Linked DNA regions of Homo sapiens: regions 1 and 2 are each linked to region 3. The links come from fine-mapping of genetic effects on gene expression. A gene starts in region 3. Each other region holds a variant in brackets. All regions are shown on one strand. Distances are from middle to middle.

Region 1 (11,568 bases), 690 kb after region 3:
AGTCTCTGTTAAAGTACAGTATTTACCTTGCAACCGACCTTTTGTGTTGTCTAAGGACAATAGCTCAGGAACTCTAGATCTGTAATCAGATATACCCTGAGTAGAGTTTGCTGTTGTAGGCAATAAATTTGAGGCTTAGAAATGTATAGATCTCTGGGGCTTCAGCTCCTAATACTTGGGAGGATCTACGCTATACAAATATCCAGTGCTCATTGTCACTTTAATTTGTAGCAGAGCAATTGGAGTATATTAAAAATGTTAAAAAGGACTTGAGATGCCAACTCAAGTTCAACCTGAGAATGTGAAGTTGTCAACTTTGCATCCTGGTTTCTCCACCAACTTAAAAAATGTAGCTGACAAAACAATATCAATATCTTCACAATCACCAAGTGCTGATACCAGGTAGATGGACAGGTGCTCAATAAGTACTTGCTTAATGCATACATGAATATAAGGAAAAGAAAGAAAAAAATAGTATTTGGTAGGTTTCTCCAAAAGAGAAGTTCCAAATGTGAACTTTGTTTTGCCTGAATGCTTGGTAATGTTTCTTAAATTTTGAAATAATAATACATTTTCTTCTCTGGGGTTAAATAATACTTGTTAGAAAATTTGTGGAGATGACAGATGGGCACAAAAGAAGAAATGGAAAGGCTTTGGGGTGAGCACTGTGCTGCTTTATTACTCCAGAAAGCTCTCACTTCTATAGGGTGTAAGAATGCCATTTCCCCACATCTTACCAGCATTGAGTGTTTTAACGTTTTAAATCTGTCAATTTTATGGACAAATTATTACTTCGATGCATCATCTTCAATTCTAGAAACCCCTTAACATTTTTTTGTCTTCATTTTATTCTGTGGGATATAATTGGTGTTTTGATAAATCTCTAGTATCAGAATCTCTTTTCTATTTGGGGGGAATTCTGCAATGCTATGAGTCTTAGTGGCGCTCACCTCCCACTAGAGAAATAACACTTCCAAAGCTGTGTGACAGTGAGAATACAGGTGTGTTCCCAGGTTTTGCTCATAGGACACCCTCATTTCAGAGTTGAGGTGAGCTGTAGAAAGACTGAGTTCCTGGGGAGCAAAAGTGATAGTGCTGGTCATGGCATCTAGTGTCTGTTGATGGGTATGTCTGCAGTGCAGACTGCACTGACCAGGACTCAGCAGTGGCAGCAGGGATGTCCTCAGTGGAAGAGTTCTCTGCTGTGACGCTAGCATTAAACCTAGCTTTGTATTGCTGAACCTGGATCTTCAGCTTCCACAACCATTCTGTGAGCTAGATAATATTTTTTAATGAGCATCGTCTTTGCTCCAGTAAGCCAATGTAGGTTTCTGTTACTTGCAACTTAAGACATTAATGGATAAATAAGTAGTACTAGGCCTGGTTGCTTCTAATGTGCTGGACAGTTCAAGGCAAAAGAATAAGCTCGGGCCGGGCACAGTGGCTCACGCCTGTAGTCCCAGCACTTTGGGAGACTGAGGCGGGTGGATCACAAGGTCAGGAGATTGAGACCATCCTGGCTAACGTGGTGAAACCCCGTCTCTACTAAAAATACCAAAAATTGTCTGCATGTGGTGGCGGGCACCTGCAGTCCTAGCTACTCGGGGGGCTGAGGCAGGAGAATGGCGTGAACCCGGGAGGTGGAGGTTGCAGTGAGCTGAGATTGCGCCACTGCACTCCAGCCTGCGTGACAGTGCAAGACTCCGTATCCAAAAAAAAGAATAAGCTCGAAGTCCTAAATTCTTGGCTTAGATAGAGACTTTCTATAATAGTATCAAAAGAATATCTTCTCTCTTGCAGGCACAAAGCTGAAGAAATTAAAAGTAAATTAAGACTTGAATCCCAAGGTTGCTGAGCTACCAAGTCAGTTGAATTTACAGCCAGGTGTGAAAGTGTATTGATTGAGAGAGGAGAACCTCGGAACTGGGGTAGAGATATGGGGAAGGGACAGAGTATGATGAGATCCCAGCCTCATGAGTCTCATTTGTTGGCTGGAGCAGCCTTCTTGCCTGTCTTACTCGAAAACCAGAATGACCCCCTTTGCAAAGGGAATTCCATCCTCCTTATGGCCCATTCTCAACATCATTCACCATCCCCAGATCCCTATCTTAAAGACAGATCTCAGCATGCCTTGGAATACCAACTGCAAAGTCAAAACTGCAAGATGTTGATAATTTTTATTTGCAAAAATCTGCTAAATGGATTCTCAAGGCAAATGAACAAGGAAAGAGTATAATTTTAAATTTGGCTGAATTTGTTGATATGGATTGACTTAGCACAGATTCTGGATTCAATATGGTAGCCCCAAGTGAGTGAGTGTGCTAGATGCCACACTAGGCATTCAACTCCTCAGGAAGTTAGAAACGTTGGAATGGATTTATCATCTTTGCCTAACTGTACCACGTTCTCTAAGAGGATTCAGAAGATAATCTCTTCAGTTATTTAGAAATACAGGAATGAGAGTGTTCCAGGTCTTGGAAGAGTGCCAAAGTGGCCATTCTCTGTAAGCTAATGATGCTGGTGAGAGATACAGCAAGGTTCCATGATTTCAGGGAGTTTACTGGATCCCAGGGTGGCAGAGGCTAAGTGGCAGCTCCAAACCATTAGAGACAAGGTGGTTATGGTTATTGTAATATGCATCATAGCTGGTGGGATAATGGTTTGATCAACTTTAATATTTGGAAGTAGCTAGATTTATAATACATTGTTAGCCCAATTAGGTTCTACTCAATAAGAGTAACAGAAATTGCATACTTGATAAATCAAGGCCTGACTTGAATTACCACAATGGTCACGACCTCTCAACAAAGTCCCAAATCTATAAAAGTTTATAGTTCCAGGCTTCTTTAAATAAAGGGGAAGTCAAATACCCTTGAGAGAAAGAGTAAGCTACAATAACGTCTCAATTAGTGGCTATACATCTTCTTATCCTTTTACAAAGTGACCTAAGCCATTTAAATGGGAACTTGAGTAAATGGGAACTTGGTGGGGAGAAGTGAAATGTTTAGACCTTTCAGAAAGTGTTAGACATTAGCTCTGGGCTAACACTAAGTCCTGGTGACTCAGAACACACTGTGCTTCTTCTGTGGTTCTGAGTATGGGTTTTATGGAATTCAGGTGATGGAGCTCTAACTCATATCTGTCTCATTGTAGGCCCAGTGGGACCTTGAATACATACTGTATTTCTTTAATTCATGAATGTACCATTGGAATATATATAATCAACAATGATGGAACCTCATACTGGCTTCTCACCTATTATACTAGAAAGGACTAAATGGAAAGAAACTTCTGGAATTCCTCTCAATACCAAGAGTAAATGAAAAGAAATACCACATCCCTGGGGGAACCATAGTGACAAATGTCATAAGAAGCCACTTGAAAGAGGTGGAGAAACTGATTCCTGTTGCTTCCTGACATAACTCTCTACTATACTTGGAGAATTCTGGTAGAGTATTATAAGCTTAACAGGTGATAACTTCCCTTAAATCAGGTGTTCCAAATGTGGTGTCTTTACTGAAGCAAATGAACATAGCCTTTACTGATCTTGCAAATCTTGTTTTCTCTATCACAATAAATTTAGAACATCAGTAGCATTTAGCTTATACTTGGCATGGATAGCAATATACTTTTACCACTTTGCCTCAGAGTTATGTAAATTCTCTGACCTCAAGCCATGATGTAATCTCTAGGGAACTAGATCATCTCATTATCCCAAAAGATATCAGACTAGTCCAGGACATCAATGACACTATGCTGATATGATCAAGAGAATAGAAGCAGTAGACACTCTAGATGCTCTGGTAACACACATGCATGCTAGAGAATGAGAGATGTATTCTTGAAAATACAAGGATATAGTTGCTATAGGGGTTTCTGAGGGTTCATTGGTTTGGAACATTTCACAATATATGCTGCAGTTTGAATCCTCTACCACTAACAAAGAAACAGCACCTGATGGGTCTATTTTCATTCTGAAGGCAGCATATCCCACATTGGGCTATGCTGCTTGAAGCCACTTACTAGATATAGCCAGTGCTGTCAGGGCCTCACCCATAACACCTCGCTACTTCAAAATTGCAACTTCCAGAACTGAAATTCTTTTTCCTGAGGGATTTCTCTGACTGCCAGAACATACCTTATTGCTTATTACTCTAAGTGTCTTGACATATTGTGATGCTGTATGAAGACTGTATTAAGTCTCATTAGGAGAAGCATAGTAAAAGCCCTGGGGTTTGAGATTGAAGCCATGGTCTCTTAGTTAAGCAATTAGTTTATTGAGAAACAGCTCTCCCCTTGCTTCAAGGGTCTTACAGAGACTAAATGCTTAACCATGACCTACTAGATAACTATTCAATCTGAGCTGCCCGTGATGCATGTCACAGGAGTCACTTAGCCACGTATTTGGGTATACTAAACTGCAATGGGTTTTCAAGTAGAGGTGGTTGTATTAGTCCGTTTTCACACTGCTGATAAAGACATATCTGAGACTGGGTGATTTGCAGAAGAGAGGTTTAATGGACTTACAGTTCCACATGGCTGGGGAGGCCTCGCCATCATGGCAGAAGGCAAGGAGGAGTAAGTCATGTCTTACACAGATGGCAGCAGGCAAAAGAGAACTTGTGCAGAGAAACTCTCCCTTATGAAACGATTAGATCTCGTGAGACTTACTCACTAAAATGAGAAGTGCATGGGGCCTGTCCCCATGATTCAATTACCCCTTACTGGGTCCCTCCTGCAACAGGTGGGAATTCAGGATGACATTTGGGTGGGGATACAGCCAAATCATATGAGTGCCATATATGGCATCTACTTCAAGGAGATTTTTCTCAACTCACACTTGTGTTTTCAAGGGGAGGTTCCTATGATTAAGGGGAAAAGTGGACACTTAATTACCCCTGATTTTGCATAAATTAGCACCAACTCAAAGAGGACTATTTTAGCATTATAAATACATTCAGTGGTAGCCTGGCCTCAACTTGTAAACTTTACCTTAACCACCATTGTCAACTGCCATTAATGAATGCTCAACTTGCTAGCTGTAGCCCCCAATATGGTACCATGCGAAATGGGGACCATCTAGAACCTAACTAATCATCAGTAGAGATCATCAAGGAGCAAAAGTAATTTTGAATTTGAATTTGCGTTTGTATTCCTTGCCTGCCATGCTTTAGCCAGCCTACCATTCTTAGATTGATTGAAGGCTTTACGTCCCATGATGGTGTCCCACAGCACATAGTTTCTAAACATAGTTTCTCTACATTGAAAGAAGTAAGGCAGCAGATACAACACAGAAGATTCATGCAGTCTCCCAGAAGCTGCAGTGGAGTCTGTGAAATAAAATTGTAGTTTTCTAACCTCTGTAGCTTAGGAAAACGTATATGAAATGGTAGGAATGGATACTAAGGACGGATCAACCATTTCCTACAATTTATGCAATCATCCAGAATGGTAGAAAGGCCTATTGATGACTCTGTTAGAGCTTCAGATTAGAGACTACCTTGTGAAGTTGGGGTGCTGTCCTGTGGGACGTGATGTGTGCTTTGAACTAGTGATCAGCATGTGATCCTGTGTCAGTCATACAACAAATGTATAAGTTTGGAAGCCAAGAGAGAGAAAAAGGCAATAGTATCTCTTACAAGTACAGCTAATGACCCACTCACAAAAGTTACTTTCTGTATTAGTTAGGGTTCAGTGCAGGAGACAAAAAATCACTTCAGGTATTTTAGGCAGAAAGGGCTTTCATGCAGGTAACTAGATGCTTATGAAATCATTGGAGACCAGGTGCAGTGGCTCATGCATGCAATCCCAGCACTTTGGGAGGCTGAGGTGGGAGGGTTGCTTGAGCCCAGAATGAGACCAGCCTGGACAACATAGAGAGACCCATCTCTACAAAAAAAAAACAAATTAGCTGGGTGTGATGGCATGTACTTGTGGTCCCAGCTACTCAGCAGGCTGAGGTGGGAGGATTGCTTGAGCCTGGGAGGTCAAGGCTGCAGTAAGCCATGATCATGCCACTACACTGCTGCCTGGGTTATAGAGCAAGACCCTGTCTCAAAAAAAAAAAAAAAAAGATACTGGAGAAGTAAGAATCAGTCATTTCGAGAATAGTTAAGTTCAAGAAAACCCCATGTAGATAAAATTCTGGAGTCAGGTAGTTGAAATAAAGAAATGGTTGGAATGGTGAATGCCTAGCAATTATATTTGGGACATTTCCCATCTCCGAAACCCTGTGATCTGCTACTTTAGAGGCTTAATACCCAAAGGAAGATGGTTTCCATCAGGGAACAGCAGTGATTGCATTGAATGAGAGGGTAAACCAACCCACCTAGCTATCGCAGACTTCTTGTGTCATTGGCCAAATCTGTGAAAAAGGATGTTCTGGGTTGGCATGGGAGATTGTTCTGGTCAATAAGGTTACTGCTATGTAATAGCAACAAGGTGTATGGAACCCAAGGGATGTTTTGGGATGCCACCTTGTACTGCTCCAGTGATTAAAATTTAATGGAAGAACACATCAATATCTCAAACCCCTCAGGAATGAAGGCAGGTCGTCATATTGGGTAGATAAACCTGGTCAGCTGAGTAGTAGAATGAAATTGAAGAGAACGTGGAAGGAAAAGAGTGGAGGGACAAAGCCCCCACT[A/G]CAGCCTCACATCCATCTGCAGATGACTGTAGCATAGGCCCATGTTTTCCTACCTGCTATGTCTCATGTTTGTTTATGTATCTTAACACATTTTATTCTCTTTTCCTGTTTCTTTTCTCTACTGTCTGACACTGTGTATGTTAGGGATTAACTTTACAGCTGAGTCTGTAGATAATAGAATACTGAAGAGTGAGAGTACCAGAGAAGATCTTGGACTTATAGCTGGAGGCATCAACTGAAAGGCCTTTAGTTTTTTCATCATTGGAGGAAGGAAGGAAGGAATGCTTTTATTATTATTTATTTTTATTTTTATTTTTTTGAGACGAAGTCTCGCTCTGTTGCCCAGGCTGGAGTGCAATGGCACAGTCTTGGCTCACTGCAACCCGTCTCCTGGGTTCAAACAGTTCTCCTGCCTCAACCTCCTGAGTAGCTGGGATTACAGTTGTACACCACCATGCCCTGCTAATTTTTGTATTTTTAGTAGAGATGTGGTTTTGCCATGTTGGCCAGGCTGATTTCAAACTCCTGACCTCAGGTGATCCGCCTGCCTCGATATTCCAAAGTGCTGGGATTACAGGAGTGAGCCACCACGCCACCCGGCCAGGAATGCTTTTAGATTAGATAAGGATGGTTGTATTAGGTTAGGTAAGAGCTTTATTTTGGGAGGTGGGGAGAAAAAGTATGAGGAAGAAAAATGTTTGTTGATGTGAACCAGTCAAAGGGTGGTCTTTCAGTGAGCACTTGTCATCTTTTTTGACCACCCAGTATCTGGGTCTCCTTCCTATGTTTTGTGTTCTCTCTCATCTTACTGAGTCTCATTGCAGGCGGTGTCTACCTCTTGCTGAAAATGCCAGTTATTTGTTTTCCTACCAGATCACCTTTTGCCCTCTTGCAGCTGGAGTACAAGTGGGCATCATCTAGAGTCCAGGGGTTACCCCCACAGTCACAGGAAGGCACATTCTCAAGGTCATCTCCTTGGTAGGGGCAGTGGCTGCATGAAGACTGTGTTCTTGGAACAGCAGTGCTGGTGTATTAGTGAGAACATCCTGCGTTCCCTGCTTGTATTCTTTAGTGCTTAGCAGTGACAGTAGTGCCCTCTCTCCACTGGCTCTGTGGTGTGATTTGGGGTCTTTTTGTCTGTATTGCCCAAGTTCTCTGCATTACCTATTATCCTTGTTCATTTTTCATCAGCCATGGTTGGCTTCTGTTGTTTCCCACTAGGAAAACCAACCTATTCAATGATGTAATGGAAGGAACACTGGACTTGCGGGCAGGAGCCTGGGTTGGAAACAGGAGATGTCACTTAGTGGCCATGTGACATGGGGCATATGATTTAACCTCTCTGAGTTGTGGCTTTCTTATCTGTAAAATGGGAACAACGTTCCCCATCTCAACTGTTCAGCATAAAGATTAAATGAGCTAATATGTGTGAAGGTTCTTAGATCTGTGCTTGTTGCATCCTGTTTTTATTGTTTTTGTTTTAAATAAGCAGCACAATGGGAATATTCAGTGTTTGAGCACACAGTAACTGTGCTTTTATCATAGCATAGGACTGTTTCATATTATTTTTATTAAAATGTCCTGGAAAAGAATATGTTGTCTTGCTTGTTCTGGGAGTACATAAAGTTACAGAGTTGTAATTGGCAATTCTGAGTACAAGCGTTCTTTACTTATTGTTTAAGCACTTCCATAGCATATAGTTCAGATTTCTAAGGGTAATCCTGGGAATTGCAGAGTAGCAAGGTACACTTTTATATCTGATCACTGTTAGAAAGTTTAATAAACTCAGTGACTATATTAATAAGCATGCCATTTGTGGTGAAAGGCAGCTTGTTTATTTTTTCAATCAAATTATTCTTACAAAGGAATGTTAGATATAGAGGGTATAAGTAGTAATTAAATGAATACCTATATACTCATCATTCAAATGAAGCCTCTTGTGTAACTCTCCCCAAATTGTTTCCCTGCCTTCCTTCTAGCAGTATGCGTAAAAAATGTCTGGAATTACGTACAACAAAGTGATAGCAGAGGTAGGAATGATGGGGTGTTTTCGCTGTCTTTATTTCTTTGTAGTTTGGATTTTTTAGGAGTATACTTTTTTTTTTCCATTTAGGAAAAACAATACATTTAGGAATGAAAATGACCAACCATGTTAATTACATTGCAGCAATAGAAATTAACTAATGAATTGGAAAACACAAACACAGTAGACTTGCCATATACAGTCATGTGTTGCCTAACAATGGGAATATTCTCTGAGAAGTGCCTCACTAGGTGATGTTGGTGTACTGTGAACATCACACGGTGTTCTTACACAAAGCTAGATGGTACAGCCTACTACAATCCTAGGCCATGTGGTCTAGCCTATTGCTCCTGGGCTACAAACCTGTACCGCATGTTACTGTACTGAGTGCTGTAGATGATTGTAACACAAAGATAATATTAGTGTATCTAAATGTAGCTAAACATAGAAAAGGTTATATTCCAACCTAAGACATCATGAGGTGAGAGGAGTTCTTCAGCTCCATTATAATCTTTTTTTTTTGTTTGTATTTCAGACAGGGTCTCTGTTGCCAAGGCTGGAGTGCAGTGGCACAATCTTGGTTCACTGTAACCTCTGTCTCTTGGATTCAGGCGATCCTCCTGCCTCAGCCTCCCAAGTAGCTGGGATTACAGGCATGTGGCACCACTCTTGGCTCATTTTTGTATTTTTAGTAGAGATGGGGTTTCGCCATGTTGGCTGGGCTAGTCTTGAACTCCCGACCTCAAGTAATCCACCTGCCTTGGCCTTGCAAAGTAATGGGATTACAGGCATGAGCTAACATGCCCAAACTCCATTATAATCTTATGGAACCACCATAAGACATCTGTCCTTGACCAAAATGTCATAATGTGGCTCATGACTAAGTACATTAAATTTCAGGAGCACATTAGCAACAAGTATTTAGACAATGAATAGTTTTACTGGCTTAACTACTCTGTGATTTGTAGTAATTAAAAAGATGTACCCTTGAGTCAGTGGAGGTAGTATCAAACCCAGGTCCAACACTTACTAGCTGTGAGGCCTTGAGCAAACCATGTAAACTTTTGTGCCTCAGTTTCCTTACCTTTAAAATGTGGATAGTTATGGAATCAAGCTTGTAACATGGCTGTGAAGATTAGATGGATAATTACGTAGAACAGTGGTATATAATTAGGATGTATGTATATACAAGAAATGGAATTCTGGGAAATGTAGTTCAGTCTCACCAAACCAACACATTGCAAAGCCGTCCTATTCTTCTAATTGCTCTTTTAAGAACTCTTATGCATGGAGAATTCTTCCTGGCCTCTGATTCACTCATTTTGTTTTCGTAAGTTTTATTCTGCCCTTCACTGCCATTATTAAACACCCTCATTCTTTTTTTTATTTCAAAGAATTCATTTTTGTTCTTAGATGATGGTGGCTTGTCCTTCTCTTCCTCCTCCTTTTTCCTTTTTTTCTATTCTACTCTTTCTTCAGTGATGAAATAGCCTCTTTCATCTCAGTGAGACTTGAAGTTAAATGTTCTTTATTGTTTTCTGCATTAACACAAGGTACATTTTCCTTATTGCCTGATACTAACAAATTAAGATCCGCATCTAGTGGGTTGCCAAAAGTAACTATGATAGAGACCTTTATGTACTACTCATGGAGATTCTAATTTGAAAGTTCCAGGGAAAGACGTGCAAATGTTACTTTTTACAATAGGTACCCAATAATTTGATACTATTTGTATAGACCAGTGTTTGGGAACTTCTGATGCAGGTCGTTTAGTATTTATCGCTAGTGTAGGCTCATGTTGGTTTTAGTGGTATTTTTTTTTTTTCATTTTTTTTCTTGTTAGAGTGTTCTCCAAGCATATCAGTGGTGCATTATTGGCAGGTCTTCCTTTCTCCATCCACAGATAGTAGATAGCAGCTGACCACCAAGTATTAATATTTCCCCTGTAAGTATAGAGGTTGATTGTGATGGGCTAGCACATGGGGTTCTTTAAAATTATACTATATGCATTAAATACATGCACACACTTACATAATTTTCGGATTTGAATATTTCAGGCCATTTCTTTTGAGTCTTTAATGTTTAATAAGCTAACAATTTAGGCTATGAATTTGCCTCTGGGCATAGCTTTAGGTGCAGCTTAAGCATTGCTGCAGTGGTATGATCATTGTGATTAGTTCCTAAATAATCTGAGAATTTCTATTAGGAGGTCTAAAAAAGTGTTCAAATTGCTGAAGGTTTTTGTTTTGTTCTATTTGGTTTTGCTTATGCTTAAGTGTTCATTATACTGTGGACAGAAAATGAAAAATACTTCCTGTGTAATTTTTACTGTTTGGAATTTAGTCAGTATTTCTTTTTAGGTAATATAGCAAACTAATGTTAAATTCCATGGTTATTAAAATGTTTGATTTGTGTGAAGGTATTATTACATTTTGACTAATGTGTCAGATTTATACCCTGGTGTTTCTTATGTTTATTAATTTTTCCTTCTTTTAAATTTATTTTTCTATTTCAGGGCAATGTTTTTCCATGTATAAGTGTTAATGACTATTATAGCATTATATATATTGTACCTTTTGTGAACATAATACTTTCTTTATTCATTGAATACTTTTGGCCTTGTTTTTTTGCTTTTACTGACATAGGAACTATTACTCTCTTTTGGTCTATGTTGGTCTGCCATATCTTTTTCTATCCTTCTACTTTTCAACTTTTCTGTGTCACTTTTTTAAGTGCTTAGGTAAATTGTATTTTTTCTTTAAATGTAATCTAGGAATTTTTGTCTGAGTGTTTAACTTATTTATATGTATTATTATGATAGATAGCTTAATCTATATTACTTTGATTTCTTTTGGAGCTTTTTAGAATATATTTTCACTGTTTCCTACCTTTTGAATCA
Region 2 (10,220 bases), 23 kb after region 3:
GGTGGGTGCCTGTAGTCCCAGCTACTCGGGAGGCTGAGGCAGGAGAATTGCGTGAACCTGGGAGGCGGAGGTTGCAGTGAGCCAATATCATGCCACTGCACTCCAGCCTGGGTGACAGAGCTAGACTCTGTCTCAAAAAAATTAAAAAATAAAAAATAAAGACAAATGTTCAGCAACGTTTGTTCTCCTTGGGGACCGCTGAGGTGCCTGGCTCAGTCACATGTCAGTTTTGCAGCTCAGGCCCATGAATGGGGAAGTCGACTTCTTGTCTGAGTCCTCACCCGCCCCTGCCATGTGTGCCCTACTCATTCCTCCCACACAGATGTACGAAGCTTCTTGTGAGCACCCATGTGAACAAGACAGACACATTTCCTGCCTTCTTGGGAATCCAGTTGAGTGAGGAAGACATTCGCCAAATAACTGCTCAAGAAAATTTTGAATTATACCAAGAAAGGGAGATAGAAGTTAAAAAAGAAAAAGAAAAAGAATTTTTTTTTTTTTTTTTTGAGACAGAGTCTCATTCTGTCACTCAGGCTGGAGTGCGGTGGTACAATATGCTTACTGCAGCTTCCACCTCCGAGGTTCAAGCAATTCTCCTGCCTCAGCCTCCCTAATAGCTGGGACTACAGGCATGTCCCACCACACCTGGCTAATTTTTGCATTTTTCATAGAGACGAGGTTTCATCATGTTGGCCAGGCTGGTCTCGAACTCCTGGCCTCAAGTGATCCACCAGCCTCAGCCTCCCAAAGAGCCAGGATTACAGGCGTGAGTCACCACACCTGGCAGAACATTTTTTTTTTTTTTTTGAGATGTAGTGTCACTCTGTTGCCCAGGCTGGAGTGCAGTGGTGCAATCTCTGCCACGCAGCTTCAAGTGATTCTCCTGCCTCAGCCTCCCAAGTAGATGGGATTACACGCACCTGCCACCACACCCAGCTAATTTTTGTATTTTTAGTAGAGACATGGTTTCACCACGTAGGCCAGGCTGATCTCAAACTCCTGACCTTGTGTTCCACCCACATTGGTCTCCCAAAGTGCTGGGATTACAGGCATGAGCCAACGCACCCAGCCAATTTTTTTTTTAAGGTAGAATTACGACAAGCCAAGTATTATGGAGAAGAGGATGGGAATTCTGGGCATATTTGGTCCATTCAAGGAGGCCGGGGACCAAAACTGTGGGCTGAGGATTGGGGGAGAAATGGGACTCAGCAGAGCCAAGTCTGTATCTGTACCGAGGCTGGGAGAGGTGGGCTGCAGACATGGGAAGCTTCAAGTAGGGCGGGTCCTCATAGTGTCTGGCTCCTTTCCACCAGTGACTCCGCCTCAATTCTCCATTGTCATGGAGTACTGTGAACTCGGGACCCTGAGGGAGCTGTTGGATAGGGAAAAAGACCTCACACTTGGCAAGCGCATGGTCCTAGTCCTGGGGGCAGCCCGAGGCCTATACCGGTAAGACGGGGTGAAAAGGCGCCACTAAGGGTTGGATGGGTCTGTCCACACTCCTGATACTCCCAGAGATGGTGAGAGAACAGGCCAGACGCCCCAGACAGTCTCCCTCCCATACACTGTTTTACTATTTACTCTGATTACAGATAGGAGGGAGGAAAGAGGCTTAACCCAGGGAACACCAGCTCCCAGAACTGACGGTTGAAATTGATGTCCACACTGCACTTATAGAGTTGGATGAGCCCTAATTTTGGAGTGGACAGATTTAGCATAAAAATGAACATATCCAGTTAAATTTGAACGTTAGGAAAGTAATGAATCATTTTTTAGTATAAGTGCATCCTAAACATTGCATGGTATATACTTATACTAAATATCAAAAATATCAAATTTTATTTTATGTTTTGAGACAGAGTCTCACTCTCTTGCCCAGACTGGAGTGCACTGATATGATCACAGATCACTTAACCTCCCGAGCTGAAGGGATTCTCCTACCTTAGCCTCCTGAGAAGCTGGGACTACAGGCGCACACCACTACACTCAGCCAGTTTTTTTTTTATATATATTTTTTGTAGAGATAAGGTTTTGCCATGCTGCCTAGGCTGGTCTCGAACTACTGGGCTCAAGCAATCCTCCTGCCTCAGCTTTCCAAAGTGCTGGGATTACAGGCATGAGTCACTGCACCCAGTCTCAAATTTTGGATAAACATTTATTTTTAGTACAACTATGTCCTATACAATTTGTGGGCATGCTTGTACATATATATATGCGTGTACGTGAATCTATATATTCATTGCTTATCAGAAACTCAAATTTAATGGAGTGTCTTGTGTTTTTTTCTTTTCTTTTTTTTTCTTCTTGAGATGGAGTCTCCCTCTGTTGCCCAGGCTGGAGTGCAGTGGCACGATCTCGGCTCACTGCAACCTCTGCCTCCCAGGTTCATGCCATTCTCCTGCCTTAGCCTCCCGAGTAGCTGGGACTACAGGTGCCTGCCACTACGCCTGGCTAATTTTTTTGTATTTTTATTAGAGACGGGGTTTCACCATGTTAGCCAGGATGGTATCGATCTCCTGACCTCATGATCCACCTGTCTCGGCCTCCCAAAGTGCTGGGATTACAAGTGTGAGCCACCGCGCCCGGCCGTGTCTTGTGTTTTATTTGGCAACTCTACCTATTCTCACCTGCAGAATCTATGGATTCTTAGTCCCAAGGGTCCCCAAAGGTTAGTCACTCACAAACCATCTGCAGGGTTTTAACTATACTACTACCAGTGTTATTTACTTAACATTTTTCATTACATTGACTCACTTTTTAAAAATCGGAATAAAGGCCTGGCCCAGTGGCTCACGCCCATAATCCCAGCACTTTGAGAGGCCAAGGCAGGTGGATCACTTGAGGTCAGGAGTTGGAGACTAGCCTGGCCAACGTGGCGAAACCCTGTTTTTACTAAAAATACAGAAATTAGCCCAGCATGGTGCCACAGGCCTGTAATCTCAGCTACTCAGGAGGCTTGAGGGACAAGAATCACTTGAACCCAGGAGGCGGAGGTTTCAATGAACTGATATCGTACCACTGCACTCCAGGCTGGGCGACAAAGCAAGACTCCATCTCAAAAAATAATAATAATAATTGAAATAAAGCTTTTAAAAAGGACACTTTCTCTTACTACCATAAATTGAAAACCAGTGTCACTTGCCAAAAATAGGTAACCACAAATGAAACCAAAACAATGTAATTAAATTCTGGCTGGATGAGGCTGCCTGCCAGAAGCTCTGTGATCCAACCCACATTCTCTTTGTACAATGGAGATATTGGAGATATTGGCAGAGTTAAGGATACCCAACACCAAGGCTGGGCGCAGTAGCTCACGTCTATAATCCCAGCACTTTGGGAGGCTGAGGCGGACAGATCACAAGGTAAAGAGATCAAGAGCATCCTGCCCAACACGGTGAAACCTCGTCTCTCCTAAAAATACAAAAATTAGCTGGGCGTGATGGCACGCACCTATAGTCCCAGCTACTCGTAAGGCTGAGGCAGGAGAATCGCTTGAACCTGGGAGGCAGAGGTTGCAGTGAGCTGAGATTGTGCCACTGCACTCCAGCCTGGGCGACAGAGCGAGACTCCGTCTCATAAAAAAACAAAAAACAAAAAACAAAAACAAAAAAACAAAAAAAAAATACCAAACGCAGACTTTCTTCTTGATGTAATCAGAAAGACTGGAGCAAACTGAAAGGAGAGTAATTTTCCCTTTATATAATCTTGCATACCACCTTATCCCACACTTTTGGAAACACTGTCTTAGCTATTAATTTGAAATTAAGTTTGTTTCTTCTCAACTCCCTAAACTAGTGAGTTTAAGGAGAAGTATTTTTGGATGTTGTAGGGGACACTGTTAATATCCCCTCCAAATGACCTCTGATCCTTTTTACCAGCTCTATTTACCCATCCCCCTCTCGGCATGCTTTGCTGCTGAAAGTTCACAGCTGCAATCTTCAGAGGATTGCCTGTGGGCACTGGAGCCCTTTCACCCTTATAGACAGCTGAAAGTGCCCACGAGTTTTATATCCATCTGTCCCTGCCCTCCCCAACACAGTCCATAACCACTGACTGGTGTAAGTATAAAAGTCCAGTTCCTTTGCTTCCTGTGGGACACACTCTGAGGTGTAATTGTGCCCACAGGTCTCCGCGAGACCACCTGAGCCTGGGATTTCACCTGAAATCAACCTCTTGCTTGATTTCTTCTCCTTCGCCATCCTACTTCCTGTACTCCCTCAACCATTTCTCCTGGGAGCACCTTCTTTTTGTTTGTTTGGGGGACTTTTGGAGTTATTTTTTTTTTGAGACAGAGCCTCATTTTGCTGCCCAGGCTGGAGTATAGTGGCGTGATCTCGGCTCACTGCAAACTCCACCTCCTGGGTGCAAGTGATTCTCATGCTTTAGCATCCTGAATAGCTGGAATTACAGGCACATGCCACCACGCCCAGCTATTTTTTTGTATTTTTATTAATAGTAGAGATGATGTTTCACCATGTTGGCGAAGCTGGTCTCAAACTCCTGACCTCAAGTGATCCATCCACCTTGGTCTCCCAAAGTGTGGGGATTATAAGCGCAAGCCACCATGCCTGGTCAAGGGAGCACCTTCTTGATACAAATCCCTCGTGCCCAAATCATGGCTCATGATCTGCTTCTGGGAGAATCTGAGCTCAGGCAGACACCATGAGTGCAACCCAACCTGGGACGCAGGGGCTTTGTGAAACCAAAGCCCTTGTCTGGAAGTCAGCGGGACCCCAGCTTCACATTCTGCTTTGACCTGAAGGGTCCCAGCAAGGTCCAGCCACCCAGCCATGCCTCTGAGCTCTCGGATCTGCCCAGCACTTCCCAGGCAAAGCAACACAGAGGCAACGTTGTCCTTCTCTACCTAAAGGCACCCCTGATGCCCGATTGCATGCACTTCATAAGGGCTGTCATGCCCCCTTGTGCTATGAATCTCATCTCTGTTCTATACTCACGGCTTGTGATTCTCAAACCTTGCCTCTACATCCCAGTTTTTCCTGTGTAACTGTGGACAGGCACCCATGGTACTGTCCAGCCTCATCAGCCCAGTTATGATTGTCAGTCCCCCAAAGAAAGTTTGGGCAAAGGTACTTATGCTCCCCGCCTTTGGCTGTGTCAGGCTACACCATTCAGAAGCACCTGAACTCCACGGAAAAATCAGAAGCTCAAACTTCCTGGTAACTCAAGGCTACCAAGTGAAGGTGAGTGTGCCTTGCGGGGGCGCTTTGGGTCAAACCTGCATGACTGGTGCTATGAGAGGGGCACGAGTGTCTCAGAAAGGCTTGATTCTTGTCTTAGTTTATTTATTTATTTATTTAGAGACAGAGTCTCTTTCTGTCACCCAAGCTGGAGGGCAGTGAGCGAGATCGCCCCGCTGCAACCTCTGCTTCCCAGGTTCAAGCGATTCTCCTGCCTCAGCCTCCCAAGTAGCTGGGATTACAGCCATGCACCACCACTCCTGACTAATTTTTGCATTTTTAGTAGAGACAGGGTTTCACCATGTTGGCCAGCTGGTTTTGAACTCCTGGCCTCAAGTGATCCGCCCACCTGGGCCTCCCAAAGTGCTGGGATTACAGGCATGAGCCACCATGCCCGGCCTTGCCTTGGTTTTAGAACTGAGTTCAATTTTAGTTTTTTAGTTTCAGAACTAACTTCAACTTTCTGTGTGCCCACCACACAACAGTCTCCATCTATGCCGCCTGTTCTGATGACTGCCTTCCCTCACTGCCCATTTAGCAGGGATGGGCTACAAGTCATTTCCCCTTAGATGCCTGGACACCACTTCTATGTCCCTACAACATACAATGGGGGATCTTGTTAGGTTTAAGGACTCAGACTCACAGGACAGGTCTAGGCCACACTTGTCATTCAGTTACTTAGAAGGATGTCAGCAGCGCCAAACCTTTCCCTCCAGGGTGAGTCCTCGCAGTCATCCAGGAGATACTCTCTTTGTCAGAGCCACAGGTGCTGGAGAAAGAGGCTCCCATTAGGTGGGTGTGGGTCATCCAGGCTTAGAAGCCCATGACCTGCAGGAGTCAGCATCTCTGGTAACAACTCTGCAGGCATGCCTTCCAGTGTTTCTGCAAGTGACATGTGAGTTGCTGTTTTAAGAGCTGCCACATCTGGGTATGGTGGCTCACGCCTGTAATCCCAACACTTAGGGAGGCTAAGGCGGGTGGATCACCTGAGGTCAGGAGTTCAAGACTAGCCTGGCCAACATAGTGAAACACTGTCTCTACTAAAAATACAAAAAATTAGCCGGGTGTGGTGGCGCACGCCTCTAGTCCCAGCTCCTAAGGAGGCTGAGGCAGGAGAATCACTTGAACCCGGGAGGCAGAGGTTTGCAGTGAGCCGAGATCGCGTGGTTGAACTCCAGCCCGGGCAACAACAGCAAAACTCCATCTCCAAAAAAAAAGAAAAAAGAAAAGAAAAGAGCTGCTACATGGCCAGGCATGGTGGCTTATGCCTGTAATCCCCGCACTTTGGAAGGGAAGGCAGGAGGATCACTTTGAGCCCAAGAGTTCAAGACCAGCCTTGGCAACACAGTGAGACCTCCCCCTCTTCAAAAAATTTAAAAATCAGCCAGTCATGGTGGTGCACACCTGTAATTCCAGCTACTCAGGAGAGTGAGGCAGGAGGAGGATGCCTAGAGCCCAGGAGGTCAAGGCTGCAGGGAGCTATGTTTACGCCACTGTATACCCTAGCCTGGGCAACAGAATGAGACCCTGTCTCAAAAAATAAAAAAGAGGCTGGGCGCGGTGGCTCACACCTGTAATCCCAGCACTTTGGGAGGCCAAGGCAGGTGGATCATGAGGTTAGGAGATCGAGACCATCCTGGCTAACACAGTGAAACCCTGTCTCTACTAAACAATACAAAAAATTGGCCAGGCGTGGTGGCAGGTGCCTGTAGTCCCAGCTACTCCGGAGGCTGAGGCAGGAGAATGGCATGAACCCAGGAGGCAGAACTTGCAGTGAGCTGAGATTGCACCACTGCTCTCCAACCTGGGCGACAGAGTGAGACTCCGTCTCAAAAAATAAATAAATAAATAAATAAATAA[G/ATAAG]AAAAATTTGCTACAAAGCATTCCCATCAGCTGTTTACTGTGTAGTCCTGTTACCCCCTTGATCCTGCCCAGAAGCAATCTAACAATCAGCAGTCATTTTTATTTTCATCATCAGCAATGTTACTAAGAGCCATAGGTGACAGTCTACCTGTATCAGATTTCCAGGGGAACAGAGCTAAGAAGTTCACTGGAAGTCAGATTTTCATACAGAAGAGGAAAAGATTTTGTGAACTCAGTGTCCACAATTCCCAAATGCTAAAAGAATTTTAGCAGTTTTCTTTGTCATCCATAGACGGTTTTCTTTCTTCCAGTCCTACGAGTGTCAGAGACAGCCCTCAAATAATAGCAGACAGGCCTTTTTTGCCTTTCAGATGCCTTTCCCCCTCTGCGATGGTGATATAAGTACTCCCAAAACACTGTTTCTACTACTCTCACGCTCTTCATGCAGCCTGACTATAAGATGCGCTATTCCACCTTTCATCCCTGGTATCCCATACGGCGCTAGATGTAAGAGAATGTCAGTGCTCAGGAAACGTGTGAGCAAATGAATGAATGAATGAATGAAAGGGGGATGAGCCATCTAAGTGCCTTATCCCTTTTCTCACATTGCCCCTAGATTTGGGTACCTGGCTGAGTTTGGGGCTGGCAGCCTTCAGCACACCAATGGTGTCAATGGCAGGTGTGCATGGGACAAGAACATATGCTGTCATGATTGTGCTACAGTTTCTTTAAGAACACCAGGTGACCGCGCAGGCCTGGGGGGATGACTCACACTCGTCACGCCAAAGCCAAAGGATCAGGCTGACCCCCCATAAAGTCAGATAGCACAGAGGGGATGCCCCCATGCCATTTTTCCATCTGCTTCTTTGGGAAAAGGCGAGCCAGGCAGTGGCTCTATGACCCCTCTCCACTCTCACTGAGTGGAGTTCAGTCCTCAACTGAGAAACCCCTACATTTTAACATAGTCATACTGGCAACAACTACAACTTAGCAGGTCTTACTGGTGCTTTATAACCATTATCTCAAGTAATCCCCCCTGTCATCGCCCCATTTTATACAGAAGAAATCTCTTTGTGTTTCTCTTGGTCACTGCACTGTGATAAGTTGAACCCATAATGTTAACCAATAAAGTAGCCACACAGACAGAAGTCACGACAGGAAATAAATCCCTAAGGTAAAAGACAATTCCCTGGCAATTGTGTGTAGCAACAATCCCTGCCCTTTACTCCTCTACCCAAGATCTTGCTTGTTTCTTTCTAAGTTGCCTCTCTATCTAGCTTGCAGGATTTGAGTTGAGGAAAACACAGACTTCCATGAGTTTGGGAACTACGAGAGAAAAGACAGACAGAGTCAAATCTACAGCATATCTCTCACCTCAGGAACTGGAAGATGTATTTTATCAATATGATGTAAAGTCTGAAATATACAGGTACACTCACGTTCTGGTACAGATTCTAACTCAGATGTGCATAATAGGAAAACCCAAATCAAACTCCTCCAAGGACCACCTAAACTCAACTCTGTTGAATGAAATTGGGTAGTAATCAAAAAATTCACTGAGTTTTCTGGCAGTGGCTAGAGGGACAGGGGAAAGGGGAGACTAGTTATGGTTGTTCAGTTTCTTGGTTTTCTTTTAGCTTTGGAATCGTCCTCTGGGAAATCGCCACTGGAGATATCCCGTTTCAAGGTGAAGAATGTGAAGACTGGCTCAGCCAGTGGTGAGGTTGGGTCCCCTTCCAGTAGACCAGAAATTCCCCATCAGTGCTGCCCCTGGCAATTTGTTGTTTAATGTGGGAACTGCCTGGGCTGGTCAGTGGAATCGTTGGAAGTTCTTGTTGTTTCCATACTCAGAGTCCCTAGTTCTGATGCCAGCCATCAGCATCCAGAGAGATGTACGAGTAGCGGAGCAATTTTTTGAGGCTCTCATGCTATCATTTCCAGGCTGTAATTCTGAGAAGATCCGCAAGCTGGTGGCTGTGAAGCGGCAGCAGGAGCCACTGGGTGAAGACTGCCCTTCAGAGCTGCGGGAGATCATTGATGAGTGCCGGGCCCATGATCCCTCTGTGCGGCCCTCTGTGGATGGTAGGGTTCTTTCTGGTGTAAAGAGCGTGAGCCCCATCATTATTTCACACTTGTGAAAGATTTCCTTTTCACCAGCTCCAAGGCAGTAGTTTACAACGAGGGGTGGTTTTATCCGGGGAACATTTAGTGATGTCTGAAACATTGTTGTTTGTCATAAGGCCAGGGAGGTAGGATGGAGTGTGCTACTGTCATCTAGTGAATAAAGGCCAAGGATGATGGCTGGGTGCGGTTGCTCATGCCTGTAATTCTAGCCCTTTGGGAGGCTGAGATGGGCAGATCACTTGAGGTTAGGAGTTTGAGACCAGCCTGGCCAACATGGTGAAACCTCATCTCTACTAAAATTAGCTAGCCATGGTGGTACATGCCTGTAATCCCAGCTACTCAGGAGGCTGAGGCATGAGAATCTCTTGAAACTGGGAGGTTGCAGTGAGCCAAGATCACGCCACTGTACCACTGCACTCCAGCCTGGGTGACAAAACAAGACTCCGTCTCAAAAAAAAAAATGTTGGCCAGGCGCGGTGGCTCATGCCTATAATCCCAACATTTTGCGAGGCCAAGGTGGGTGGATCGCCTGAGCTCAGGAGTTTGAGACCACCCTGGCCAGCATGATGAAACCTCGTCTCTATTAAAAACCCAAAAATTAGCCAAGTATATTGGCGCATGCCTGTAGTCCCAGCTACTCAGGAGGCTGAGGCAAGAGAATCACTTGAACCCAGGAGGCAGAGGTTGCAGAGTCAGGATCACGCCACTGCGCTCCAGCCTGGACAACAGGGCAAGACTCCATCTCAAAAAAAAAAAAAAAAGAATGCTATTCAACATCCTACAACGCATAGGACAGCCCACCACACAAAGAACTCTCTGGCAGCCCCAATGTCAATAGTGTAAGGGCTTCCAGAGGGCATTGTTTTATCCAAAGTGGGTTGGAAAGGCAGATTACTTTCTTCCTGCCTATTTCCTTCCTTTATTTATCTGTCTGCCTATTTATGGTTTTTTTTTTTTTTTTTTTTAGAGAGGAGGTCTCATTATGTTGCCCAGGCCAGAGTGCAGTGGCTATTGACAGGTAGGATCATGGCACTCTAT
Region 3 (11,568 bases):
AGGTCAGGAGTTCGAGACCAGCCTGGCCAATATGGTGAAACCCCATCTCTACTAAAAATATAAAAAGTAGCCAGGCATGGTGGTGCATGCCTGTAGTCCCAGCTACTCGGGAGGCTGAGGCGGGAGAATCGCTTGAACCAGGAAGGCGGAGGTTGCAGTAAGCCGAGGTTGCGGCAATGCGCTTCAACCTGGATGACAGAGTGAGGTCTTGAAAAAAAAAACATAAATAACTTAGGTAAATGTAATAGGATAAATGTCTATAAATGAACTTTTCATGTAATTTGAAATTTTGAAGTTATGTTAGGTTAAACAAAATAATAGATATTCGTTAAATGTCTGGGTCAATTTGTTTCATTAAAAAATAGTATTTTTTAATGAAATACAAGAACACATTATTTTTTATGAACCATATGAAAAATATTATTTTTTAATGAACAAAATTACTGAATATAAATACAAGTGTGTTCTTTGATGCTTACATTTTGTAAAAGATTACATTTATTGGGTCTATTAATACATCCAAAAATTTTATTATGGAAAAACATGTTTTTAAAAATTATGAAATGGGAGCCAGGAGGACTACTTGAAGCCAGTTCAAGACCAGCCTGGACGACATAGCAAGACCCTTTCTCTATGAAAAAATTTAAAGATTAGCCAGGTGTAGTGGTACACCACCTGTAGTGTTAGCTACTTCGGAGGCTGAGGCAAGAGCATCACTTGAGCCCAGGAGTTTGAGGTTGCAGTGAGCTATGATCACACCACGGCACTCCAGCCTGGGCAATAGAGCAAGACCTTGCCTGGGATAGTGACTCTTTCCTTCAACCTTTTCATCACCTCTTATAACTTTTTTTTCTCCAGTCTAACTCTGCCCTTATAGCCTGACACTGAAATGTTTATCTTAAAGGCCTGGAAGAACAATGCTTTCTTTCACTATACCTTGATTCTGTACTCTTGGCTACTCTTGATGTGTCTGAATTTTTGCCAGAAAACTTCCCATCCTGTTGCTAAGAATCACCTATTCCCCTTATCAAGGTACAAGTTTTCTTGTTTGTTTACTTTCTTCCTTTTTTTTTTTTTTTTTGAGATGGAGTCTTGCTCTGTCGCCCAGGCTGGAGTGCAGCGGTGTGATCTCGGCTGACCGCAACCTCCGCCTTCCGGTTTCAAGCGATTCCCCTGTCTCAGCCTCCCAAGTAGCTGGGACTACAGGCGTGCACCACCATGCCCAGCTAATTTTTTTGTATTTTAGTAGAGACGGGATTTCACCATGTTGGCTGGGATGGTCTCAATCTCCTGACCTCGTTATCCTCCTGCCTCAGCCTCCCAAAGTGCTGGGATTACAGGCATGAGCCACCATGCCTGGCCTACTTTCTTCTATAATACAGTGTACCCTCATAACCTTGGACACATTCTTCTTATGTCTGATTAAATTTTATTACTCTTTTCATCAGGTGTAACTTTCAGGTTATCTAAACAGCCTTCCTATAAAGAGAAGCAATCACAGTACAGGAAATTTTTCTTAATCTTTTTGGTAACTGGCCTTAAAAAAAAAAAACAAAGAATTTATGTTTTACCAAGACAATTTCCTATGTTGTCTTTATTAGGTTTCAGTTACTCAGGAAAACTGAGCTTTAAATTGGTTAAGGTTTTTACATCCATGTAACTTTCTGTATTGCTTTTTATTATTATTATTATTATTTTAGACAGGGTCTTGCTCTGTTGCCCAGGCTGGAGTGTGGTGGCATGGGCTCAAGTGATCCTCCCACCTCAGCCTCCCGAGTAGCCGGGACTACAGGCGCACACCACCATGCCTGGCTATTTTTTTGTATTTTTGGTAGAGACTAGGTTTCACCATGTTGGCCAGGCTGGTCTCGTATTCCTGGGCTCAAGTGATCTAACTGCCTCAGCCTCCCAAAGTGCTAGAATTATAGGCATGAGCCACTGCGCCCAGCTAGCCTCTGGATTCTTAAGGTATATTGGCTTGTAGTTTTCGTTTCTTGTGTCTTTATCTGGCTTTAGTATCAGAGTAATGCTGGTTTCTTAAAATGAGTTAGGAAGTGTTTCCTCCTCTCCTATTTTTGGAAGAGTTTGAGAATGATTGGTGGTAATTTATTTTTAAATGTTTGGTAGAAAACACCGCATGTTCTCACTCATAAGTGGGAGTTGAACAATGAGAACACATTGACGCAGGGAAGTGAACATCACCCACCAGGGCCTGTCAGGTGGTGGGGGCTAGGGAAGGGATAGCATTAGGAGAAATACCTAATGTAGGTGGCGGGTTGATGGGTGCAGGAAACCAGCATGGCACGTGTATACCTATGTAACAAAACTGCACATTCTGCACTGTACCCCAGGACTTAAAATATAATAAAAAAATATAATAAATACAATAAATAAAAGTCTCCAAGAAAGAAAAAAATGTTTGGTAGAATTTACTGTAAAACTATTAGGCCTGGACTTTACTTGTTTGGAGGAGTTTTGATTATTAATTCAATTTCTTTACTTGTTGTAGGTATGTTCAGATTTTCTATTTCTCATTGAGTGAATTAGGTAAATTTTGCGTGCCTGGGAATTTGTCCATATCCTCTAGGTTACCTAATTGGTTGGCAAACAATTGTTCATAGTTTTCTCTCATAGTCCTTTTTATTTCTGTAAGGTAGATAGTAAGGTCCCCACTTTCATTTCTGATTTAAGTTATTTTCATCTTCTTTTTGTTTTAGTTTAGCTAAGGATTCGTCAATTTTATTAATCTTTTCAAAGAACTAACTTTCAGTTTCATTGATTTTCTCTTTTCTGATCTTGGTAATTTCCTCCCTTCTGCTAGTTTTGGGTTTGATTTGTTCTTCTTTTACTAGTTCCTTAAAGGGTAGAGTTGGGATAATGATTTGAGATCTCTCTCTCTCTTTTTTTTTTTTTTTTTTTTGAGATGGAGTCTCACTCTGTCACCCAGGCTGGAGTGCAGTGGCATGATCTTGGCTCACTACAACCTCTGCCTCCTGGGTTCAAGCGATTCTCCTGCCTCAGCCGCCTGAGTAGCTGAGATTACAGGTGCCCGCCATCACGTCGGGCTATTTTTTTTTTTTTTTTTTTTGTATTTTTAGCAGACGGGGTTTCACCGTGTTGGCCAGGCTGGTCTTGAACTCCTAACCTCGTGATCCACCCGCCTCAGCCTCCCAAAGTGCTGGGATTACAGGCATGAGCCACGGCACCAGGCCTCTCTCTTTTTCTCTTTTGTAGCCATGTAGCTATAAATTATCCTTTGAGAACTGTTTTTGCTGCATCCCCTAAGTTTTGGCATGTTGTATCTTTTATTTGTCTCGAAGTATTTTCTAATTTCCCTTGTGATTTCTTCTTTGTCCCACTAGTTGTTTAAGTGTATGTTGTTTAATTTCTGCATATTTGTGAATATTCCAGTTCTCTTTCTGTTATTTATTTCTAGTTTTATTCTATTGTGGTCAAAGAAGATGCTTTGTATGATTTTGATCTGTTTAAATTTATTGAGCAAAATATATCTTCATTTCTCTTGAGAAAATGTCCTTTTTGACTCATGAATTATTTAGAAGCATATTATTTGACATGTGATTTGCAAACATTTTCTCCCAATCTGTAACTTGTCTTTTCATCCCCTTAAAAGGGTCTTTGCAGAGCAAGTTTCAAATTTTGATCAAGTCTGATTTATCATTTTTTAATTTTAAGAATAATGGCTTTGGGGCCAGGCGCAGTGGCTCATGCCTGTAATCCCAGCACTTTGGGAGGCCAAGGCAGGTAGATCACTTGAGGTCAGGAGTTCGAGACCAGCCTGGCCAACATGCTAAAACTCCATCTCTACTAAAAATACAAAAAAAAACTAGCCAAGCGTGGTGGCACATGCCTGTAGTCCCAGCTTGTTGGAAGGCTGAGGCAGGAGAATTGTTTGAGCCCTGGAGGTGGAGGTTGCAGTAAGCTGAGATCACAGCACTGCACTACAGCCTGGCAACAGAGGGAGACTCCGTCTCAAAAAAAAAAAAAAGAAAGAAAAAGAAAAGAAGAAAGAATAATAATGGCTTTGATGTTATGCCTAAGAATTCTTCGCCTAGCCTTAGGTTCTGAAGATTTTCTTCTACATGTTCTACAAGTTTTTTTTTTTTTCAAATGTTTGTGATTTTTTTTTTCAAATGGCAACTCCAAGATAAAGCCAAAGAAACTGGGAATTATTTTTAATATTGTACAATTTTTAGTATGAATAGCCATTCTTATTAAATAGACTCATTTGGCCAGGCAAGGTGGCTCAAGCTCGTAATCCCAACACTTTGGGGGGCCAAGGCATGAGGATTGCTTGAGTTCAGAAGTTCAAGATCAGCCTCAGCAACACAGGGAGACCTCTGTCTCTACTAAAAATAAAAACATTTTAAAGGGCTCATTTAAACTTTTTTCTTTTCTTTTTTTTTTTTTTTTTTTTTGAGACGGAGTCTCACTCTGCCACCCAGGCTGGTGTGCAATGGCGCGATCTCGGCTCACTGCAAGCTCCGCCTCCTGGGTTCACATCGTTCTCCTGCCTCAGCCTCCCGAGTAGCTGGGACTACAGGCACCCGCCACCACATCCGGCTAATTTTTTTTTGTATTTTTAGTAGAGATGGGGTTTCACCGTGTTAGCCAGGATGGTCTTAATCTCCTGACCTCGTGATCCGCCCACCTCGGCCTCCCAAAGTGCTGGGATTACAGGCGTGAGCCACTGCGACCGGCCCTAAACTTTTTTCAAACATTTACATTTTCTCAACAGGAAATGTCCTTTCATTCTGCACAGTTCTCTCTGCTTTCTTCTAAAAGGTTCCTTGTTTTACATTTTACATTTAAATCTCTGATCCATTCAGGCAATTTTTGCATAGAATATGAGGTTTAGGTGAAGTTCATTTTTTTGTTCAGTTACTCCACCACCATTTGAACACCACCTATCTGGCAAAGGATTAATATCTAGAATATTTAAACTCTCAAAACTCAAGTTTTTTAAAAAGAATTCAACTAAAAATGGGCAAAAGACATGGACAGACATTTCACCAATGAGGCTATACAGATGGCAAACAAGCACATGAAAACATGTCCATCATCACCAGGCACTAAAGAAATGCCAATTAAAACCATGATGAGACCAGGCGCAGTGGCTCATGCCTATAATCCCAGCACTTTGGGAGGCCAAGGTGGGTGGATCACCTGAGGTCAGGAGTTCGAGACCAGTCTGGCCAATATGGCGAAACGCTGTCTCTACTAAAAATACAAAAAATAGACAGGTGTGGTGGTGCACGCCTGTAGTCCCAGCTACTTGGGAGGCTGAGGCTGGAGAATCGCTTGAACCCAGGAGGTGGAGGTTGCAGTGAGCTGAGATGGCGCCACTGCACTCCAGCCTGGGCAACAGAGTAAGACTCTATCTCAAAACAAAACAAAACAAAAAACCATGATGATATATCACTATTCACCTGTTAGAATAGCTAAAAATTCAGGCAGGGACAAAATAAAATGCTGCTGAGGATGCAGAGAAACTGAATGTCTTGTACATTGATGGTGGGACAGTAAAAAAAAAAAAAAAGAAAAGAAAAGAAAAAAACTTCCAAAAGGTTATACATTGTATGATTTTGTTTATAGCAGATCAGTATACCCATCCTGCAGCTGCTATGAGTGTTGACAGCTAAACACTCACACAGCTTCCCCCTCGTCCAGAAGAATTGCCCTGGGCAGAAAGGAGGCTGCCTCTTGTTCCAGACCTTCACATTCCAGACCTCCCCATGGAGCCTCCACTGACTACATACTTGTTTCACTTTTTCTTCCTCTGCCCTATCATACCCACCACTCTCCTAAGAGTCTTCCTTCAATAAATCACAGGCACCTGTGTTACTTGTTGAAGGTGTCCAGGTTCTTGGCATCTTGAACAAAGAAATGGGCAAAATGCACAAAGCAAGGAAAGAATGAGGCAACAAAAGCAGAGATGTATTGAAAACAAAGGTACACTCCACAGGGTGGGAGCCAGCGTGAGCATAGGGGCTCAAGAACTCCGTTACAGAATTTTCTGGGATTTAAATACCCTCTAGAGGCTCCCATTGGTTAATTGGTGTACACCCTATGTAAATGAAGAAGATGAAGTGAAGTTGCTCAGTCACTTACTCAGTGAACGCCATATGTAAATGAAGAAAATATTTCCTGTCATAGCTGAAATGTGTCCATTTTATTTAGTTCTAAGAAGTCAGCGTGAATCAGCTTTATGTTCCCTGCCTGCAGACCCTATTCTCCTGCCTCACCTCAATCTCTTCACCTAAGACAGGAAGAAAACTGATGATGCAGGAGACGAAGAACAATAGCAAGGCGAAGAAATGAATCTCCAAGGCCGGCTTCAAGCGATTCTCCCCTCTCAGGCTCCCGAGTAGCTGGGATTACAGGCATGCACCACCACGCCTGGCTAATTTTTGTATTTTTAGTAGAGACAGGGTTTCCCCATGTTGGCCAGGATGGTCTTGAACTCCTGACCTCAGGTGATCTGGCCACCTCCGCCTCCCAAAGTGCTGGAATTACAGGCATGAGCCACCACACCCAGCTCCCAGTTCTGTTCTTTTAGAGGCAAATAGTCTGTTGAGTAAATGCATAACACTACTTAGACTTTCTAGCTGAAGATGTAGTTAATCTTAAGAAAACCTGACTCACACTGTAACAGGATGTTCTGCAATGACCTTAGAAGAGGAAGTGACTTTTTTCCCACTTTGGTGTCTCTTCCCTCGTACCCTCCCCACCCCGCCAATATTATCCAGCACAGAGAAGCAAACACCAGAAGCTTCTCTCCAACTTTCAGTTTTTCTCTAAACTTCCAGTCCTTCTCATACTGTGTCCTGGTTATAATAGTTGCTGGGACCTTATTCTATTCTGAATCCCCAGCCCCTAAAGAAGGCTTGGTACTGACGTGTACAGCGTAGTTACCCAGTGACTTTGGGGAAGGCAGGAAGAGTGTGGAAAGGACAGGAGGAAGGAAGGGAGGGGCCGTGGCTCCGAGCTGCCTAGAAAGCGGCTCCAGGGAGCCAGGGCACCGTGAGCCTGGTGGTTGGCAGCTGGAGCCACGTCGGAGGGGGAAGTGTCGCAGCATTCTCTGCAGGCATCACAGACCTGAGGCAGTGGCCTCCGGAGGGCACTGGACAGAAACAGCCATCCAAGTGGCTGAGTGGAGGGACCCTGCTCAAGTGCAGCTGCAGTGGCCGGGGTTTCCCTCAGGTAGGGATCGGGGCGCCTTGTCGCCGCCAGCCACGTGTGGCGTCCGGTACAGTCAGCAGAGTGCAGGGTGCGGGCACCAGGAAAGGGGGCGCAGGGGAACTCCCGCGGGCCTCGCGTTTGCAAACTTCTCGCCTGGGCAGGAGGCGGTCGTGGGAAAGAAGGTGGAAGAGCGAGCTTTTTGGAACTGTGCACGGGACAGATTGGACGCACACCCCTCGGGAGGCGCGAAGGTGAGCATGGGGTCTTCCCAGGAGGCGGCGGGGCCGAGGGGCTGCAGCCGAATTCCTGGACGGTGATGGGAAGAACCAGGGGTGAGGGTGGCCCGGTCCGAGTTCCTGGAACTCAGGACCGAGTTGGTTTCATTTCCTCAGCTCTGATGGTGGAGCTGCCTGCTCGGATCTCGCACTACCTTCCGCCAAAGCGAGACGCCCAGTAGCAGTGGGGGTCGTGGAGGGCAGGGGCACGGGAACAAGTTACCTGATGTCTTCTCAGAAAAAGGAAGTCTTCAGGTTTGCAGGCTGAAGGCGTGAGAGAGAGACAGAGTGAGAGAGAGAGAAGAGGGAAATGCCTGATAACCTTTACTTATTTTATTTTATTTTTATTTTTTATTTTTTGGAGGGAAGAGGTGAATTTGCATTGTTATTACCATTTAAAGATTTTTCACTTTTAAAATTAGTAACCTGTTTTCTCATCGTAACATATGAACATAATCCCCTTTTTCTTTTTATTTATTTATTTTGAGAGATGGAGTCTTCCTCTGTTGCCCAGGCTGGAGCGCAGTGGCACAATCATAGCTCACTGCAGCCTCCGAACTCATGGGCTCAAGTGATCCTCCAACCAGATCCTCCCAAGTAGCTAGGACTACAAGGTGCACATCACCACACCCAATTAAATTTTTTTTGTATTTTTTGGTAGAGCCAGGGTCTCGCTTTGTCACCCAGGCTGGTCTCAAACTCCTGGGCTCAGGTGATCCTCCTACCTCACCCTCCCAAAGTGCTGGGATTACAGGTGTGAGCCACTGCAGCTGGCCTGAACATATTCTTAGCTGTTTGTTTTACATATTATAAATAGCACTGCAGTGAACATCTCGGTAGCCATCTATCTACAAACACAAGCTTTTCTACATCATAAGTTCCTAGAAATTCAAATTGCCCAGTCTAAGTGTGTATATATGTATATTCCCTTTCTTCCCTTGTAGATCATATACTTAATAAGACCTTAAACAATTTAAGTTATTGTAGGGTGCTTTTTCCCAATATTTTGCAGTTTTTAATATATTTTAATTTCATACAGGCAAGTCCCCTTTTCTTTATTTTTTAAAATCCTGGTTATCCCTACTAATTTCCCATTTCAAATGAACTTTAGGATCATTTTGATTTAATGCCAAAATATGTCAGTAGATGTTTTATTGGAACTGCATTAAATTGGATTTAAATTTGGGAAGGATTGCTGGGTTGGTCTGTTTTAGTCTTCCCAGCCAGAAATATAACACTTCTCTTTCCTCCTTTCTTCAAGCTTTGTTTTGTGCAATTTTCTTTCTTTCTTTTTTTTTGTTTTTGTTTTTGTTTTTGAGACGGAGTTTTGCTCTGTTGCCCAGGTTGGAGCACAGTGGTGTGATCTCGGCTCAGTGCAACCTCCACCTCCCGGGTTCAAGCAATTCTCCTGCCTCAGCCTCCCGAGTAGCTGGGATTACAGGCGCCTGCTACCATGCTTGGCTAATTTTAGTATTTTTAGTAGAGATGGGGTTTCACCATGTTGGCCGGGCGATCTCAAACTCCCGACCTCAGGTGATCCACCTGCCTCGGCCTTCCAAAGCGCTGAGATTACAGGCATGAGCCAATGTGACCGCTGCAATTTTCTTCATACCATGCCACCACTGTATAATTTATTATTTGAAATTGTTTGTCAGTTCTATGGGTGGGATATTTTCCCCATTTTCCTTTCTGATTAGTTCAGTGCTGAGATATGGCTTTCTGATGAGGCTGCTGGTAAGATAACTGGAGCTTAGAGCTAGGAAGCTACAATTTGCAAGATTCCTTGAACAACATTGCCACATTTGCTTCTGTTTCTGGTGCAACAGAGAAAGTGTAAAACCTTTTGCCCTCACAATTCCCAAGAAATGGCCTTGAAGATATCTGCTTAGCACGTGGGAATAGCTGGGTAGTCTGAGATCCACTAGTCTTTTTAGGAGTGCCCTAATAACTGTTACCTCCCTTGCCCAATCACTGTAACTCTCAGGCAACAAAAACACAACTATATCGATTGCTCATTTATTTAGTTTCACTTCTGCCAGTGCCTTACTCATGTTTTAAAGCCATACTTGGGCTCCAGGCCAATTATTTTCTCCAAGCTGCTAATTAATCCATAAACTGGCGATAATACTTAACCTACCTATTTCACTGAGCTGTTAAAAAAAAAAAAACTAACTTTGTTTTTTGTTGTCGTTTGTTAGTGGTGGTGGTGGTGGTGTTTTTGAGACACTGTCTCATTCTGTTGCCCATGCTGGAATGGAGTCAGTGGCACAATCATGGCTCACTGCAGCCTCGACCTCCCAGCCTCAATCAATTCTCCCTCCTCAGGCTCCAGAGTAGCTGGGACTACAGGCAAGCACCACCACATCCAGCAAATTTTTGTATTTTTTTGTAGAGACAGGGTTTCACCATGTTGCCCAGGCTGGTCTCGAACTCAGGCTCATACGATCCCCTGGCCTCAGCCTCACAAAGTGCTGGGATTACAGGTTTGAGTCATGACACCCTACCCTAACTTTATTTTAAATACTTTGAAAACTGGTTCCATGGCCTTGTGATTATTTGAATGCAACCTCCCTGAACCGCAGCATCTTCACTTTTCACCTGTTTGTTTTTTCGAGACAGGGTCTCTCTGTTTCCCTGGCTGGAGTGCAGTGGTGTCATCATAGCTCACTGCAGCCTCAACCTCCCAGGCTCAAGCGATTCTCCCGCCTCAGCCTCCTGAGTAGCTGGGACTACAGGTCCCAGCTAATTTTTGTATTTTTAGTAGAGATGGGTCTCGCTGTGTTGCCCAGAATGGAACTCCTGGCCTCAAGCAATCTTCCCACCTCTACCTCCCAAAATGTTGGGATTACGGGTATGAACTACTGTGCCCAGATGGTATCTTCATCTGTTAAATGAAAATAACCATGGAGAGCTGGGGGTTCCAAAGCACTTAGGATGTAGTAGGTGAATTGAGAGATCTAGTGTCATAATTATTATCATCATTCATTGCTGAACGCAGTCGGCTTCAGTTGCAAATAAAGCAAACATGATTCAAACTGCCTTAAACAATCAGGGAGGTTATTGGTTCATGAAACCTGCAGTTAGGGGATGGGGTACACTTCATGTCAGTTCAAACCAGTGGCTCAATGTTGTCATCAAAGACTCAGATTCTTTCTCCCTTTCCATTCTACCATGCTCAGGTTAGCCTCATTCCAAGCTTTAGGATCAGGGCTCTGTGCTTCCTCACTCATGTTCAGAGAAGAGAGAGAGGTTAAGAGTAGGAAGCTGGCACTGCAGCCTCAACCTCCTGGACTCAAGGAATCCTCCTATCTCAACTTCCCAGGTAGCTGAGACTACGGGTGTGTGCCACCACACCAGGCTAACTTATATATATAATATATATGTAATATTATATATATGTATTACTATATATATGTAATATTATATATATGTATTACTATATATGTAATATTACATATATATTACTATATATATGTAATATTATATATATTACTATATATATGTAATGTATTACATTTTTTTGAGATGGTGCAACCTCCACCCCCTGGGTTCAAGCAATTCTCCTGGCTTAGCCCTCCGAGTAGCTGGGATTACAGGCATGCACCACCACACCTAGCTAATTTTTGTATTTTTAGTAGAGACGGGGTTTCACCATGTTGGCCAGGCTGGTTTCCAACTCCTGACCTCAAGTGATCCGCCCACCTCAGCCTTCCAAAGTGCTGGGATTACTGGCGTGAGTCACCGCGCCCAGCCAATTTTATATTTTATTTATTTCATTTTATTTTATTTTATTTTTTTTATTTTTGTAGAGAAAGGGTCTCACTTTGCTGTCCAGACTGGTCTGGAACTCCTGGCCTCAAGCAATCCTCCTGTCTCTTCCTCTCAAAGTGCTGGGATTATCGGTGGGAGCCACCTCGCCCAGCTGCATTTTTCTTAAAGGACTGTAGGAAGAAACTGAACAATTTTTTGTAGGAAAAATGAAAGATAGTCCACATGTTTTAAAAAAAAACAGAAAGAAACATATTTATCTGTGGCAGTAAAGACTACCTCAGCTCACTTCACTCATTTGAATTACCCGCCTGGCCCCTGAAAC

The links. PIP is the estimated chance that this variant, and not a neighbour inherited with it, causes the effect.
Region 1: its variant is fine-mapped to the expression of MLKL in whole blood (INTERVAL, PIP above 0.99).
Region 2: its variant is fine-mapped to the expression of MLKL in whole blood (INTERVAL, PIP 0.94).

Annotation. Positions count from the first base shown.
Region 1 is chr16:74,008,207-74,019,774 of GRCh38, reverse strand. No RefSeq gene overlaps it. Among named protein-coding and RNA genes, the nearest start is that of PSMD7-DT, 200 kb to the left of the region's middle. The variant A/G (reference allele first, on the strand shown) is at 6,647.
Region 2 is chr16:74,673,880-74,684,099 of GRCh38, reverse strand. It overlaps MLKL (mixed lineage kinase domain like pseudokinase), which reads left to right. Exons shown (of 11, transcript NM_152649.4): 6 at 1,314-1,449; 7 at 5,120-5,201; 8 at 8,336-8,487; 9 at 8,696-8,745; 10 at 9,000-9,140. Among named protein-coding and RNA genes, the nearest start is that of RFWD3, 12 kb to the right of the region's middle. RefSeq lists a silencer at 1,835-2,033. The variant G/ATAAG (reference allele first, on the strand shown) is at 7,059.
Region 3 is chr16:74,696,336-74,707,903 of GRCh38, reverse strand. It overlaps MLKL (mixed lineage kinase domain like pseudokinase), which reads left to right and starts at 7,042. Exons shown (of 11, transcript NM_152649.4): 1 at 7,042-7,451. RefSeq lists an enhancer at 7,139-7,588.